Regions from separate parts of the Homo sapiens genome. Here all the other regions are reported to be linked to region 3. Evidence: microRNA targets listed by miRTarBase, many of them from high-throughput screens and not tested one by one. Region 3 holds a microRNA gene; each other region holds the end of a gene's coding sequence.

Region 1 (4,000 bases), not on the chromosome of region 3:
TGCTGCACCATGGAGGACCAGGGTGAAGGATGAAGGTCAGTGACTCTACAGGGGGTGGTGGGGGGTGTGGCAGGGGTCCCCTCACTTCCCACATTGCTGCAAGTCACTGAACGATCACTTGGCTTAGGGGCCGAGGTACACTGAACCACAGGTGAACACAACTGAGCTCACAAAGTAGGCCCCTGGACCTCAGAGGATGGACCCCACTTCCCCTCAGCATCTGGATGCCCACCTCAAAGGTGAACACCCCTTAGGGTGAGTTTCTGGGTCTCCATGAAGTCACCTTATCATGAGTGAGGGCACTCAATATAAATACACACGTGTGGTCCTGCTCAGAGCCAGGTCTGAAGTCCCACTTGATAGCCTCAATAAAATGGCAGAACAATAAAAATACCAATTGCGTGCTAACCACAGTTGATAAAATAATCTCTGTGCATTTAAAACAGCAGGAAGTTTGCTATAAGTAACAAGGGTTCATCAGCTTTCTACTCCCTCCCTTCTATTATTATAATACATCTATGTCTTAAGCAAACAGCTTTCCAACTTGGGTGAGGACCAAACCCCAAACTTACAACTAATATGAAGTTACAACTCTAATTCTTTAGAAATGAGAGAAGTCCAAACCTCAATAGAAGCCTGCCATGCTTATTTTGAAATGTTAAAAAAAAAAAAAGATCCAGGTGTCTTCAAAATTCAAGCAGAATAGCTTGAAACACTGAAAGTTTAACATGATGACATGTGTGGCTGTTTCCCTCTCAAAATGGCAGCCTGCAAGCACCTGTGCCTTCATCACTCTAGTTTAAAACCCCACATTCGTGACTGTGCGGTTCAAATGGCCACTGCATAAGCACAGCCCAAACTCTGCCCATCTGAGTTAAAAAACATTTTATTCTTTTGAGACAGGGTCTCACTCCGTCACCCAGGTTAGAGTGCAGTGGTGTGGTCATAGCTCACTGCAGCCTCAACCTCCCAGGCTCAGGTGATTCTCCCACCTCAGCCTCCTAAGCAGCTGGGACTACTGCATGCCCCACCATCCCTGGCTAATCTTTTGTAATTTTTTTGTAGAGATGGGGTTTTGCCATGTTGCCCAGGCATGGTCTCTTCCATTTTCAGTTCCATTTTCATGCACAGTAGGGTGAATTTTCAACTTAAAAAGACAAGTAACAAAAACCTGGCCCGGGCACCACCACTGGGTGCCCTTGTGCCCATCCACTGACCCCAACAAGCTCAAAAACCTTTCTTGTCACAGTGTAGCCACCATCAAATATTAGAAGTTGACCCACAAGATGAAACTTGTTTATCCTCCCTTTAAAAGGGTGGTCCCAACCTTAGTAATATTAGGGTCAAAGCCATGTCAATTACAAACCACCTTCATAGTATCAGGAGAGACACCACAAAATATGAAGCGCAGGACGTCGTATGTAACTCATGAGGCACAAGAAAATCAGAATAGAGGCCAGAAGCTCACACATTTCCAGGGACAAGTCCCAGAAGCAAAACATAAAAGAGCTGGCTTAGGCTGAAAACCAATGGCTCTCCTCTCTCCAAGGTCAAAGCTATCCCACTCCCCAAATCACTCACAGAGTCTTTCTATGTGCTCTCCCCAACTTGCCCCGAGATTCAGGCCAAACAACTGCCCGTTTGTTCATGACCCAGGCTGAGATGGGGAGAACAGCCCACGTACACCCTACCCTGCCTTCTGAGGGGTCTACAAGCAATAAAACCTTTCCCGAATAGGAAGGGGGTAAGCTATCCCAAAGTTGGCAGAAGTTCTGCAAAACATGTTTTGTGGGGGTCTGGGACTAGGTATGAGACAAACGACTTTTAGGCTCAAAGAAGTTTGGAAATGCTGGGTTGAGACTTCTCGGAACCTTTCATACACCGGAATGCTGCAGAGCTCCAAGCAGAGTTTCCAGCCTTTTGGTCTGTTTGTTTGTATGCCTCGCAGAACCTCTCAACAGTTTGTAAGCCTCCAGGGACTTCACATGCAAATAACTAGCTAGCTGAACATGCAGACTGCCCTCCTCACTAACCACAGAGGGCAGTAAGTTGGCTATTGAAGCTTTCAGTCCCCAAAATGCTCTCATCTCTTCTGGATGGCTACATAAACAGACCAGTGAGAACCACAGTAAACCCTGAAGGGAAGGGAAAGGAGGGGCAGCAAAGAAGCAGAAGAAATGGAAATTAAAGTTAACTAAGATTTTTTTCCTAGTCTAATATCAATCTTAACACATTGATCCTCATCCACTCGAGCAGCTGAGAGCCCTCTTAAAGGGCAAGTGACATCGAGACCTGCTCTCGGAACTGTCTGCAGGAAGACTGGTGTTAGACTAGGATTGAAGATGAAGCACATCTTGAAGTTTACTGATCTCTGCCATCGGATGCTGGGTGAGGTACAGCTCATTCATGCCTTCCTTGGCTCATGCTTAAAACCCATCACACTCCTATCCTCCCATAGTTCTGCACGTTTCTCATCCACTCGGGCAGCTAAGAGCCCTCTTAAAGGGCAAGCGACCCTGACACCTGCTTTAGGAACTGTTTGCAGGAGTCAGTGCAGGCCAGCTCCACATCCTGAAGGGGATGCCATCCGGGTACGAACAGCTCAGAGGCTGAATGGCCCTATCACCCGGGAGGAGCCTGGAGGGTATTCCATCTAATCCTGTGGCTAAGCGGGGTGGATGAGGGAACACACGGACTTGTTCGAGAATTTGCCCAGCAGCACGAAACTACTTAGAAGCAGAAAACTGGGGCAGGACCTGGCGTGGGAGTTAGGGAGCCCTCCACTGCCTTCTCAGGGATCCACATGTGCTCCTCTGTGCAGGAACTTTCAACAGCGCCTCAAGATAGAGTCACAGAGAACGATGGCAAATTCCATAGCACTCACTTTTTCTTTCCTGAGAAATAAACAGATTTGGGAGCTCAGTACATCAGTAATATAAAAGACAGTGGGTTCAGAAAAAAAAAAAAGGAAAAAAATGCACAAATTACAAAAAAATATGTATAAAGAGCTTCATACCTTTTTTCGTTTTTGGTTACCTGTAACGTTTTAGAATTCAAGAAGGTTTCCAATGAGGAAAGACGGAATTATTCAGAAACAGCGTTCACCTGATACGGAGAACAGCTCCCCAGCGGGAAGTCATCATGTCTCATCTGACAGTCTAGCGAGCTGCGTGGCCCCTGGTCACTCACTCACTCACCCTCATGGGTGGTCTCTGTGCACTCATTTATAAAACAAACACACTGGACCTTGCCAGTGATTCCCAGATGTGACTAATACCCAGAATTCCAAGAACTAGTTAAAATACAGCTTCTGGGCACCACCTCCTCCCCGTTCCTGGTGGTTTTGGATTCCATAATTCTGAGCGGGGCTCACGCATCTGTATTCTTAAAAGTTCAGCCAGGTTTGGGGAGGCTTGGACTAGGTGGCCTAAGAGAACCCTTTGAGGCCCAAGCTTCACTACAGAAATTTCTGTGTTACCCACGTGCCAGCTACTCTCAGGGGGACAGTCAGCAAGGACCCATGAGGAATCATAACACGGGGCAAAGACCTGTGAAGATACAAGGGGTTGCTCACTGCCTGGGCCCAGGGTTAGTTATTCAAGCAAGATATGTAAAGTTACAGATAGTATTTAATTGGTTACTGTGATATCATAGAAATACCAAGAATCATAAAAGTAAAAAAAGCTGCTAAGTTGTACATAATGTTTCCGGAATACTAAGAAGTTGCTGCTGGTCTACAGAGCCCTGGGAGGTGACGGTGAGGATGGTCCCAAGAGGCGCAGCTAGGGTCACTGGCCCCGGTCCTGGTGCCTCTTGCCTTTGCCTTTCTTCTTCTTGTCCTCTGGCCGTGGCTCCAGGGCGCAGACACAGGCGGACCCGCCAGCGATGGCCTTGGGCAGGTCGACGCCCCTGCTCCACTTGTCGGCCTCGCGGTCGTACACCTGCACGGTCTTGGAGAAGGCAGTGTTCTCCCAGCTGTAGCCGCCCAGGATGTAGATGC
Region 2 (4,186 bases), not on the chromosome of region 3:
AAGAAAGGTGAGTTGTATTAACTGCTCCTCCCAGACTACACAATTTCAGATCTGCCAACAGATGATAGTGGTATTCTCTTTTCCATTTTGATTCTTCTTATGAACAAACATCCTTGGGCTGAGCTATGTGTGCATGTTATTATAATTTGTGACCCTTCCTAGTCATTGTAAAATAAGTAGGGTAACAAAGTGAGGGAAAAAAAGGGGCATGTTTGGTGTGTAATTATTCATTCTTCCAGGCTGTAGTGAAATTGGTGATCTAGGGTCTCTGACAGGGAAGGCTTTATTTTTGTTTTAAATGGACAATGGGGGTAACAACTGCACATTGCATTTCCCATACTTGATTTTGTCCAGTTCATCCTTTGTTTTCCACTGTCTATTGGCACCCGCAGAGTGTTGCACTGCTTATCAGTTTCTAGCATTCTGCATTCTCTGTAGTGACTGTGGGCACACTGACATCTGGGGTCTTGGTAAACATTTGAAGTGCCTCAGGATATCAGTAATTGAAAGTGAAAGCCAGAGTCTATTCCCTACCCTGCTCCTTTGTCAGAAATTTTATGGTGTTTGTGATTTCATCCTCTGTTGTTGTTGTTTTTTTTCTACCTTTTTATTTCCAGGTACACCAAATCCCACAGGGTGACAGACAAATGAGACCCCCCAAACCCAAGAGGAGGAAGATCTCCAGATAACAGAGACTACTCCACTAATGCGCAGTGTTTATTAAAGGAACATGCACAGATGTATCTGTATATAGGTATTGATATAGCCACAGTTATATCAATATTTAGACTATGGCAGATAGCTACCACCACCACAGGGTGCTAAAAGAAACAGTGATACAAAATTTTTTTGATCAGGAAGGATAATGAATGCTGGAAAAGCCAATCAAAGTCTCTGTGTGATGAGAGTGATCAATGGTCAAGAGATTACTGAGAAACTCTTTTTCTATAATACTAAATTGTGATTATAAGAAATAGTCCAAATGTTTCTGAAGAATTTTCAATGTTGTATATAGAAAATACAGAATTTCATGGTGATATCAGAAATGTAAATATTGTACAGTATTGTCATGTACAAGCGTACCTAATGCACACTTTATCTTTTATTGTACAAAGAAATAGTGTACAAAATTCTTTGGTTTCTATGGAGTACACCTACCAGAGACTACCAGTGTAAAGTGATAAATAAAAATACAACCTAAATGCTTTTCTATGATAATGTAAAAGATGCTGTTTTTGTATTTAACAGCAGAGAAAAGGCATGATGATGTAATATCTGAATTATGACATACACTGCACACCACTGAGTGTCCATTTATATTGTCTGTTTGGAATGAACCTTGCCTGGAAGCACTGGACTCAATTTCGGGTGTCTAGGAAATTGCAACTTTGCAGATTTCTAAAGGGATGAGGGCTCACAGGTCTAAATTAAGAATTCAGAAACTGCAACCATTTGTTGCATATTTTTTTTACCTAAGTTTTAAAATAGAATAGGTTTTATAAAAAAAAATCTTAGATGGAATATTTTACTCAGCCATTTCTGTAGTTAACATTTGATAGCCACCTGTTGAAGCAGATAGCTTATACTGACTGCACCACCGCTGGTGCTCAGAATTGAGGGTTTTTTTGCAAATGATATCTGACAAGGTAAAACTTTCTATTTCCGTACATGGAGGCAAAAACCCCACTTTGCAACCATTATCAGAGGTAAGATTGATAATAATTCATTTTTTTGTAGTGGCAAATATAAATATGAATCATCAAAGCAAGTTTCATATCCATTCATCAGTATTACTTAACCCAGAAGTTAAGGTGGCTTACGGAATTATTAGCAATGGTAATTTTTTTATCAGTATTGTGTAACATATCAGATTTATTTTATTTAAAGAATTATTTATACCATTAACAGATTCTTATATATATTAATGTGGCAAAAATGTGCAGGTTAAATCTATTAACCAAATTATTTATATTATATTAAGTAAGAAAAAATGTGAAACAAATGTAGAGAGAAAATACTACATTACAAGTATACAAACCTAAAACTGTGAGCCATTGTAAAGTACAAGGTAATTAATAAGAAATGTAGCACAACATAATTTTCCGTCTTCTTCTCACAATTTTTGTGGTGGTGGTATTACCCTATCTTCCAGGCAGTTAAGCAAAGTTTAGGCTTCCAGCCTGACTTCAGTTGATGGATTGTCAAAAGAAGGGATCTATTATCCCTTTATTCTTGGAACCACCAGTCCCTGCCCCAAACCCTTAAACCCCTAGAGAGCACTGCCTCGTCCTCTAGCCTGGGGCTCACACAACAGTCTGCCACTCAGGCTGCTAGGAGATTCTCCAATAGCAGGCTCAGCACCTCAAACTGCCCACCACCTCTCCTACTGCTCCTCTCCCACCCACCACCCAAACTCCTCAGTCCTGTCATGTAGCAGAGTTCCAGTAACTCAGGAAAATGGAGACCAAGGTCATTCCTTAAGTTGGTTTCTTGGGGCCACAGCACAGAGCATGCCACCTGGGCTCACTTTTGATAGCAACAGCTCTTAGTTATTCCCCTAGGTCTCCTGTGTCTCTCTGTCCCTCTGTTCCTACTTTCAACCTACCCCCAAGCCTGATGGAATGCAACTGGCTACCCTGGGCTTCATGACCTCAAAGTAGGAACCCTTCGTTCTGGGGGTAGGTTCATTTTGTCTCTCTTGTAATGGTGGGATTGCCTGCCCAGTTCCTTCATGCAGTCACATGAAGTAATCTTTTGTGTAGTTTAGTTGACACATGTTTATAAGTTAAAAGTTGATGTGGCTAGTATGTTTAAACCATTAATGTCCATTTTTTTTGCACCAACCTGTTTTTCTACTGTTTTTTCCTACACATTTTTGTTTATTCACAGACAGACAGACATGTGTGTTTGTATGCTGGGTGTGTCTGTATGTGTGTATGTGTTGATATGTAAATTTTTTAGCCTTTGCTTTTCTGTCTTCAGGCTGAGTTTGTGTTGACCAAGCCTTCTTTTTGGTATTTTGAGCTAATTCAGTTTGTGCTTCCCTCCCATTGTATACTTTACATAAGTAGACCATGTAAAGTATGTTTGTGCCCATGATTTCACTGGTTGCTATGGCTTTGATATGGGTGCTAGGTGTAGTAGTTTCAGTCCACGTGGGTTTTTTTCATCTCTCTTAGAGTTATATGGTTTTGTGTAAGCAGTTAATGTAAATATTGTTAGCATTACAGGTCATACAGTGCTGTAACATTTTTTTAAATGTTGCACCTACTTTACAATTAAAAAATTGGTCACTCGCACTTCAATTTTGCCCATAGAGCCATTTCTTTGTCTTTGTATTGAAGCCAATTCATTTTTTTAAATGAAGGCTAGGCCTTCTATGTTACCAAAATTTTTATTCCCTAAAATAAACTTTTTAAGAAACAAATCCAAGAATGGAAACAGATGAAAAATTTTTTCTTCTTTAAAGAACATAATAGTTCCTGCTGGAAAAGGAAATCTAATTTTATTTTGTGTCCCTTAACAGTCCTAGGAAGCACAAGGAGAATAAACTAAACCTCTAAGAAGGTTTTAAAAATTATTTCAAATGAGTGAAAATTAACTGAGCAGCTTTTGTGTGATTTGTCTTGTTTGTAGCATTAAAAGCAAACCAGGGTTTTTATTTATTTAAAGGAACATTTTTGGCTTGTACTTTTCAGTGCCATTATGAATGAAAATGTTTTAAGAACATTCATCCCTTGTGATATCATGGGCCACTTTTAGTCTTTTATTTGGACCCTGACTTTGAGTTTTTGCTATGCCTGTTTTTTAAGTAAACACAGCCTTCTTATTTGAACGTAACACTGCAGAATTGCAGGAAGAGAAAAGGGCAGTTAGTTATTTCACTTTCTGTAAGTTTTAGGAAGATTCTTATATCCTACGAGGTGACTCATGTTTCATTTTAGACCATGATAGCACATTGTTGTTAACTTTGGTAATCTTCCATGCAGTTTGCAGTGTTCCCTTGCAAGTCACAAGCATATATGCATTAAGATTTTAAAATCTAAGATGCTTAAGATGTTGGTGGCATTGCTCTTTCTGAAAAGAAAGACAAAATACTAGACCTTGCTGAAAATTGGATATCTTATTTACTTTGCCCATTTATGCCCGAATGGTGTAATGCAAGACTCAAGACTTTTCAATGTAG
Region 3 (4,228 bases):
CCTAATGCAATTACTTACGTGCTGACATTAGGCATAGAAAACTTCAGTTGGTGGAATGGATTCTTCCAAAAGCAAAGAGAAAATTTTACAAAGAAAGAAGCCACGGGGTGGAACAAAACTAGAATTGATTTCCTGAGTTCAGTGTTCATGAAGTTAAAAGTTCTTTTTTATTTTTCTCCAAGACTTTCCTCCGAAGAAGACCAATTTAAAGTAACAGAACTGGTTACAAAAGAATCAATTCTGAATACGCTACAAACCATTGAATTATACAGTTTAAATGGGTGGATTCATGGAATACTTTGTAGCCATAAAAAGAAATCATGTCCTTTGCAGCAACATGGATGTACCCGGAGGCCATTATGTTAAGCAAATTACCACAAGAACAGAACACCAAATATCACATGTTCTCACTTATAAGTGGAAGTTAAACATTGAGTACACATAGACATAAACATGGGAGCAATAGCCACTGGGCAGTGCTGGAGGCAGGAGGGAGGGAAGGGGCTGAGGGATTGCCTATTGGGTGCTGTGCTCACTGCCTGGGTGACAGAATCATCTGTACCCTAAACCTCAGCATCATGCAGTGTTCCCATGTGACAGACCTGCACATATACCCACTGAATCTAAAATAAAAGTTGAAATTATTAAATAAATAAAAAAAAAGGCCAGGAACAGTGGCTCACTCCTGTAATCCCAGCACTTGTTCAAGACCAGTCTGGTCAACATGATGAAACCCCGTTTCTACTAAAAATACAACAATTAGCTAGGTGTAGTGATGCATGCCTGTAATTCCAGCTACTCAGGAGGCTGTGGCACGAGAATCGCTTAAACTTGGGAGGCAGAGGTTGTAGTGAGCTGAGATCATGCCACTGTACTCCAGTGTGGACAACAGAGCAAGACTGTGTCTCAGGAAAAAAAAAAAAAAAAAAAAAGGCAGAAAAATAAATAGGTGGATTCTATGGAATGTGAATTATATCCCAATAACTGTATTAAGTACATTTTTAAAATGAGAATACCAAATTCCATATGTGCTGAGCATTCCGTAAAAATCAGGTTATTTCTGGCCGAGCGCGGAGGCTCACGCCTGTAATCCCAGCACTTTGGGAGGCCGAGGCGGGCGGATCACGAGGTCAGGAGATCGAGACCATCCTGGCTAACACGGCGAAACCCCGTCTCTACTAAAAATACAAAAAATTAGCCGGGCGCGGTGGCGGGCGCCTGTAGTCCCAGCTACTCGGGAGGCTGAGGCAGGAGAATGGCGGGAACCCGGGAGGCGGAGCTTGCAGTGAGCCGAGGTCGTGCCACTGCACTCCAGCCTGGGCGACAGCGAGACTCCGAATCAACAAAAAAAAAAAAAAAAAAAAAAATCAGGTGATTTTCACTGGAAATGAATAGACTGATGATAAATCCTGGGCGATTTGTCTTCGCAGTATGATCTTGTTTGCACATTTTTCCAGGAATATTTCATAATAGAAGCACATAAAACATTTTAAAAATGCGACAAGATGGACAGTACTCTTTAAAAATGACAATGAACAATGTGACATCGCTTTACCATTCATGTTTTTAAAATCTACCTTTCAGTGAACATGAATGGTAAAGCGATGTCACATTGTTCATTATCATTTTTCTTTTGTAATCTACATTTAATGTTTTACCTGCTGCCCATTTGAGCTTGGGAGAAGAGGCAGGGGTGTCTGGGGATGAGAAATATCGGCCAGTTGGCTGCAGTTAATTTTTCATAAGTCTCATTTATCGAAATCTGTAATTTGAACACGGCTGTTCTTTGAAATGTTCCAGTCTTTCTGAGTTCAATCAATTTCTTTCTTTTTTTTCTTTAACCCACTCCGCCATTCAATCAATTTCTTAATCATGTAACAACAGCGTGAGCCTTTGAAAACCAGACACAGGCTACAGAAAACTACACATGTTCTCTTTCACAGGGTGCAGAATATGGAATTTGATGCCTCCTCCACAAAAACTCATCAAATAGCACTGCACATCTGAGTGGCTTGGGGAGGGAAAAAAATGTATTTTTAAATGAAAGAAAAGAAAATCAGAAATGATCATTGTTAGATGAACAAAAAAAATCAGGATCTCAACAGCACCTGATGAAAGGCAAATTATACTATTCACATTGATCGCTTTTTCTTTCTTTTTTCAAATGATTTATTATCCTTTGATATCACAATCAGTTAGCTTGCTTGCTGCGGCATAAATATTTGATCTTGGAGTAACGTTTTTGACGACTGCTTTTTGCTACAGCCGGACTTTGCCTCCAACTTTCCTTGATTAAATAGAGGAGGCAAATATGAGGTGCGCAAAGAGAATAGAAATAAGTGACCTGGAATTTATCCAAGTAAAGAGAAAGCCCCAGGAAATGTATGAATATTGGCAGGGAGAAGCTCCACAACTGTTTCCTGGTGCTGGAGGAGGTGTGTCCTCTTTCGGTTTGTTTTGTGCCTGCCTGCCTGCCTGCCTGCCTGGGGACAAGCAGAATACCATGGAATTCATTTTTTCTTCAAACTGTATTCTTTGGTTCTTTGGTTATTATTGAAGCGAGCTGTATATGGAGGGGCTGGTATTTTCAGACAGTCATTGTATGTGCCAAGATTCAGGCTGAATAAAGTGGCTGGGAGACGGCGAACATTTCATTGCTTTCCCAATGGTACATCCCTAATTGTAGATCCTCGAGAAAAGGGTGCAGCTGTGAGAAGTTTGCAGCCAGTCCTTACAGCAACTTGGGATTGAAAATACCTGGTAAGGCAAGATCTGGGTAGGGCACTGACTGCCCCGACTCCCTCTAACACCCACTGACTCCAGTTCTGTTTTCTGAGTTCACACAAAACAAAGCTAGCCCAGTGTCCAAATACTTGAAGACAGCGTCTTATCCTCATTCTTGGCTGCACTCATCTCTTCTTTAGGTTAAAAAAAAATTATTTTTTTTGAGACAGAATCTCGCTCTGTTGCTCAGGCTGGAGTGCAGTGGTGCGATCTCAGCTCACTGCAACCTCCGCCTCCTGAGTTCAAGCAATTCTCGTGCCTCAGCCTCCCCAGTAGCTGGGACTACAGGTGCCTACCACCGTGCCCGGCTAATTTTTGTATTTTTAGTAGAGACGGGGTTTTTCTATGTTGGCCAGGCTGGTCTCCACCTCCCAGCCTCAAGCAATCTGCCCACCTCGGCCTCCCAAAGTGCTGGGATTATGGGCTTGAGCCACTGCACTCAGTCTCAAATTTGGTTTAACCAAAGCTCCCTTGTCATGGTTTAAAGTCTTGCAATCACCCTCATAACTTTCCTTTGGAATCCATGCTCCAGATTGAAATTTTGACTTCTGCTTGAGTCTGTGTGTGACATGGAGGAGAGGATACGGCGGTGTGCGGAAGGATGGCTCTACAGCCCTTTCTTCATCTACAAAGCAGGGAATGTAGTATCTACCTTCTGGGGTATCATGAGGAGGACATGAACAATGCTTGGGAAGGCCTTGGCCCAGTGCCTGGCACGAGACCATCATTCAGAACATGGTGGCTAATATTAGAATTCCCTTTAAGAGCGTCATTTGAAGTCAGTCCTTGAGGCTGCCTGCCTATTCCCTGGCCTGGAGGGCTTGTCTTTTTGGTTCTTAGTGGTTCTGGTTTATTCCCTTGCTCTGACCTTGTGTTATCAAAACAAGGCAAGTGCTGATGTGACTCAGTGTCAGTTAGCATTGCCACTTGCTTGGGTGATTTCCTTCAGTTCTCTGTTCCCCGGCTGCCTCCTGGGAAAATTATGCCTTCCTTGCAAAGTAGTGGGATTAAGACAGCCTGTAAAGGAGCTGGCATGGAGCAGCTCAATACATGGCCAGAAAGACTATCATCTTCCCCTCTAGGTCCCTCCCATTCTTTGCTTCCTTTGTTTATTCTCATTCCTCAGATCTCAGTTCAAACGTTGCCTTCTTAAGGAGGACTTCTTTGACCCCTCCATCTGTTACTTACTATTACTCTTACGACCATTTTGAGCGTAATTACTTATTTGTGTTATGTACATGTTTATTCTGTCTTTCCCATCAGACTCTTAAGATGCATGATCGCGGGGACTTGGTGCTGCTTTCTGCGGTATACCTAGGGCCTAACACATAGCACACCTGCAATATATATTTACTGAATAAATCATAACTGTCTTTACTCTGATAGAGAAGGCTAAAGGCAGACTAAAATGAATTTTCCACCACTAGAATTTTCAAACATGGCA
Region 4 (4,226 bases), not on the chromosome of region 3:
AACCAGAAGCAGCTTAATTTTTACGCAAGTTCATTACTCTTTGTTTATGAAGGTTCATCTCAGCCAACCACTACAAAATTGAATGACAGAACTTTGGCAGAAAAGTTTTTGTCCAAAGGACAACTGTCAGACACAGAAGTACTAGAGTACAATAATAACTTTCATGTGTTAAGTTCCACAGCTAATGGAAAAATAGAGTCTTCAGTGGGCAAAAGCTTGTCCAAGATGTATGCGCGTCACAGGAAAATATATACAAAAAAGCATCACAGTCAGACTTCATTGAAAGTTGAAAATCTGGAGCAAGACAATGGGTGGAAAAGCATGTCACAGGAACATTTAAATGGAAATGTACTTTCCCAACTGGAAAAAGTTTTCTACCATCTTCCCACTGGTTGCCAAGAGATTGCTGAAGTAGAAGTGCGAATGATAGATTTTGCTCATGTGTTCCCTAGCAACACAATAGATGAGGGATATGTTTATGGGCTAAAGCATTTAATTTCTGTACTTCGAAGTATTTTAGACAATTGAATCCTCTGTTGCAGTCTTTTTAAGGGGTGGGCCAATCATAATGAAGAGGGGCAGTCAATATCTGCACCTTTAATGCTATGTAAAAAATTTGTATTATGAGTCGACATTTTATTTGTCTTTATACTTTTGGAAGAATGGTTAACTTTTTTATAATCTTACTCAGGAAAACTAACTATTTGTTCATTAGAAAACTATGAAGAATAAAGAAACTTAGGAATGTTAAGCAGGGAATGTGGTGGTACATGGCTTAAACATCTTTTTTGGCTCAAGCAAAATGCAAACCATTATTCAGTCATTAAGAGTTTAGTTAGCTTTCTGTAGCCAATTCATGAAATCTCTGTCCACCCAGCCTTGACAATGAGCCATATCTAAAATATTACATTATTAGAACACCTACCAAAATCTCGAAAGCACAGGTTGATGTCCTTAGTATTGCTATGTATGAAGTTACTAAAACTGGAGAAAATTCTACTTCAGAAATAAGTACTGTTTAGGTTTTATATTAAAAGTTCAGACCAGCATATCAAAGGGTGCTCCTTAGTGAAATGATTTAGAATTGTTGCATTCCAAAAGCAGGTTTTCTCTTTAATTTTTACATCTCTCTCTCAAAATATTATACTTCATGAAAAAGACAATTGATGTGGATGACAACAACAAAGTCTTGAAATTAAGGGCACACTAATTGTCCTTACTGGGGTTAGGGGAAGAGAGATATTATTTTCAAGGAACAAAATATTTTCCTTTACAATCTTTCATTCATGAGAAAATTGGAATATAAATTTATTACATTGTGAAAGTATCATAAACCATATACCTTTGTATCTAAATGCAGCTTCAAAAAAGTAAATAATTGAAGTTTTATTTCTCCTCTAAATAACTTGAATTTTTTTCTTTAAAAATTTATGTATTTATATGTCCCCATTTAGTTAAGTGGTAGTGTAAATGTATGTTGTTAAAAACAGTTTCTCAGAATTATAGTAAGCAATGAAAGACAATATCTAATTAGGTTGTTATCAAAAATACTGTGTGTAAATTAGTCCGTAATATAGGGTTTGGTGCGTATCTATATTCATGCTTCTATTTCACTCTTCCTCAAAACAGTTTTATATTATGTTGACCAGTGAAATTGTAACTTAATTTCATGGGGACAGGGGCAGTGCTACAGTTCCTGGAAAAATTAGATTTGTATTATCTTTGTTTCACACCCACCACCTTAAAAAAAAATCAACTAGTTATTTGTCATTTAAAACATTTAAAACTTTGAGTCTTCAAATACATTTGATGTTAATGCTGCCATTACTTGCACTTCCATTCACTAATAACATTTCTAGGTAGTTATCAGTTTTGTCATATTCCTGGAAAATATTTTGGGGTTGTAAATTCTTTCTCCTCTTTTTCTTCTGGAGTTACAAATTGAATTTTTAAATCCGAGCACCTTTATTGTGGTGTGGAGAAAATTATCACAATTTTATGTTTATTTTACCTTCTCAGCCTTCTCTGAGGGCACTTTGCAAATACCTGAGTCCAAACAGAAGTACCAACTAAATGCTCTATGAACTCTATCCTTAGTAAATCTATTAAACCTGAATAATTTAAAAGATCATGTTCATTTTGTAATAGCAAAATTTGATTTTAATTTTTTATTTAGAATTGGTGTATTTATCATAGGGACTTCCAATTTTTCTTCACTTTTTGAATGGATATTGGCTATAGTTTTATGTTTTAACGGGAATGAATTTCAAGTCATAATAATCAGAATTTTTAGTTTTACTTTTTTCTTTTACAATATGGATTTTGTTGTTATTTGGATAGTGGTTCAATAAATCTTAAGCTCAGATAATTAAACACTATTTTGAATCTTAACAAGATACTGAGGCTTTTTTTGTATGGGATGATATCAACCTATGTACAATGAATTTAATAAACTTAAGTATTGTCAGATTTTTTGCACATTTTAGCTCAATAAAATCTTAATGTTCAAGATTTTTTTATCTGCATTTGGAAATACAATTTTGTAAAATCAATGTCTTACCTTTTTGATACAATAGATCATGTTTTGTTTTTAATAAAGCAAGAAGCCCTTTTATCTGTTGTTTTTCAGGGAAGGGATTAACATTTAATTCTGTTTGTTTACATTTGTTATCATTGTTATCCAATGCTCATTTTATGTTGCTTTATAAGTAGGCTTAGGTATAACAGAATAAGTATCTGTTTATCTAATCTACATGTGACTATCTTAGTCTCTCTCGGTCACTTAATATTATGCTGAAATTTACCACTGTGGGGATGAATGATCGCTATTCACCAAGTATATTTGAACATGTAAATGCTTAAGAAATAAGCATAATGCGGATATAGTTTGGGTTAATAGGATTCTCATAGTTTTTTTTCCCCTATGAAACATAAGTAATGATTTTAGTGTATTTCTTATGGAATACACTCATTTAAAAAGGACTTTAAGAAATTGTGGATGTGAATAATACCTTTCTCTAATAAAAATTTAAATTGTATAATAGTTTTATAATATTTACATTAATTGATATTTTAATATGGATAGACATTGCATAGATTCAAATAAATTAAAATCAATGATAAATGCTAAATATTTTATCTAAATAGTTTTTCAAGAAACAGTTATGGAAATGTGTATATTAAATGGCTCTAATGTGGAGCTTGTGGTATTTCAACTCAGTATTCATTATTAGTTGTGTGTCTGGAAAGATTGTACTTACTTTTCCTCTTTACACTACAGTTTGCTCTTATGGGGCTCTAAACTGTTTAACTGAAGAACCTTCGTCTGTATTTTGATTGAGCATAATTTAGTATTTTATGATTTCCAAGATGATGTTCTTATGTCTATCAAGTCTATGTATCAAATTTATAACATCATTTAAGAAAAAGGAATTTCCACAGATACTTCAGTTGCAATTTTTTGTTTCATGCTACTGAAAATACATTTGTTTCTAGGGGTTGGAATATTATAGAAGATGTAGGATGAAAGAAAACGATAGAACAACGAAAGAATTCTGTTTATGAAATTACAGGAATTGTGTCCACTATGGTAAAGCATTGTCATTTTAGTACATTTTCTCTTAGTAGTTTGGCATTTTATACTTTAAAACTTGTTTTGCTTTAAAAATTGTTTATAATGCTTACCTTCTTTCTCCAGTGCCTTTAGTCTTGATTTGATATGTTTGTACCCTCAGTTACCCTTTCTATTACATGTTTTTGATGTTTTCATAGCCTAGGAAACATCGATTCCTTTTTAATAATTGTCAATCTGATTATTTAAAGAGGTAACAATTATCTGTTAATGCTTTGGAAAAACAAGTAGGGTTGCCTTTGGAGGCCAGGCTTCTTAGTTCATTCAAAAATATTCCTTGGATTTATGCCATGTATTAAGCATTTTTAGCCCCCAGTATTACAACTGTGAACCAAACGGATAAGGCCCTAACCATTTTCAGCATTCTCTTTGGATGGGGTGGGATTGGGGACTTAATTAAAATAGAGATATAGAAAAATAGGCATCTAAATAAGATAATAAGTGTGGGGTTGAAATGAAGCATCTAACAATAGTTGAAGTTAGAAGTAATATTTTACAGTATTGTAACCTCTATTTAAGTTTGGGTATTAGTTACAGATAGCATAAAAAAGCCTTAATTTTTCACTTTCCTTGCTGGCAAAGGTACATTTATTTA

Evidence for each region. The annotated mature microRNA hsa-miR-4790-3p reads UGAAUGGUAAAGCGAUGUCACA and lies in region 3 at 1,540-1,561, opposite strand. An mRNA with a match to its seed (bases 2 to 7 or 8) in the 3' UTR can be bound and repressed. Matches are read on the target gene's strand: a 7mer-m8 pairs with bases 2 to 8, a 7mer-A1 pairs with bases 2 to 7 and ends in A, and an 8mer does both.
Region 1: the mRNA of KLHL36 is a reported target of hsa-miR-4790-3p. Seed matches in the 3' UTR shown: 7mer-A1 at 2,611-2,617.
Region 2: miRTarBase lists MBD5 as a target of hsa-miR-4790-3p. Seed matches in the 3' UTR shown: 7mer-A1 at 1,778-1,784.
Region 4: miRTarBase lists IPMK as a target of hsa-miR-4790-3p. Seed matches in the 3' UTR shown: 7mer-A1 at 1,837-1,843.

Annotation. Positions count from the first base shown.
Region 1 is chr16:84,661,922-84,665,921 of GRCh38, reverse strand. KLHL36 (kelch like family member 36) reads right to left here. Exons shown (of 5, transcript NM_024731.4): 5 at 1-4,000. The coding sequence ends at 3,789. Among named protein-coding and RNA genes, the nearest start is that of KLHL36, 15 kb to the right of the region's middle. RefSeq lists a silencer at 1,958-2,007 and an enhancer at 2,098-2,317.
Region 2 is chr2:148,512,253-148,516,438 of GRCh38, forward strand. MBD5 (methyl-CpG binding domain protein 5) reads left to right here. Exons shown (of 14, transcript NM_001378120.1): 14 at 618-4,186. The coding sequence ends at 689. Among named protein-coding and RNA genes, the nearest start is that of EPC2, 130 kb to the right of the region's middle.
Region 3 is chr3:5,248,641-5,252,868 of GRCh38, forward strand. MIR4790 (microRNA 4790) reads right to left here and starts at 1,615; the gene lies at 1,537-1,615.
Region 4 is chr10:58,192,378-58,196,603 of GRCh38, reverse strand. IPMK (inositol polyphosphate multikinase) reads left to right here. Exons shown (of 6, transcript NM_152230.5): 6 at 1-4,226. The coding sequence ends at 528. Among named protein-coding and RNA genes, the nearest start is that of IPMK, 73 kb to the left of the region's middle.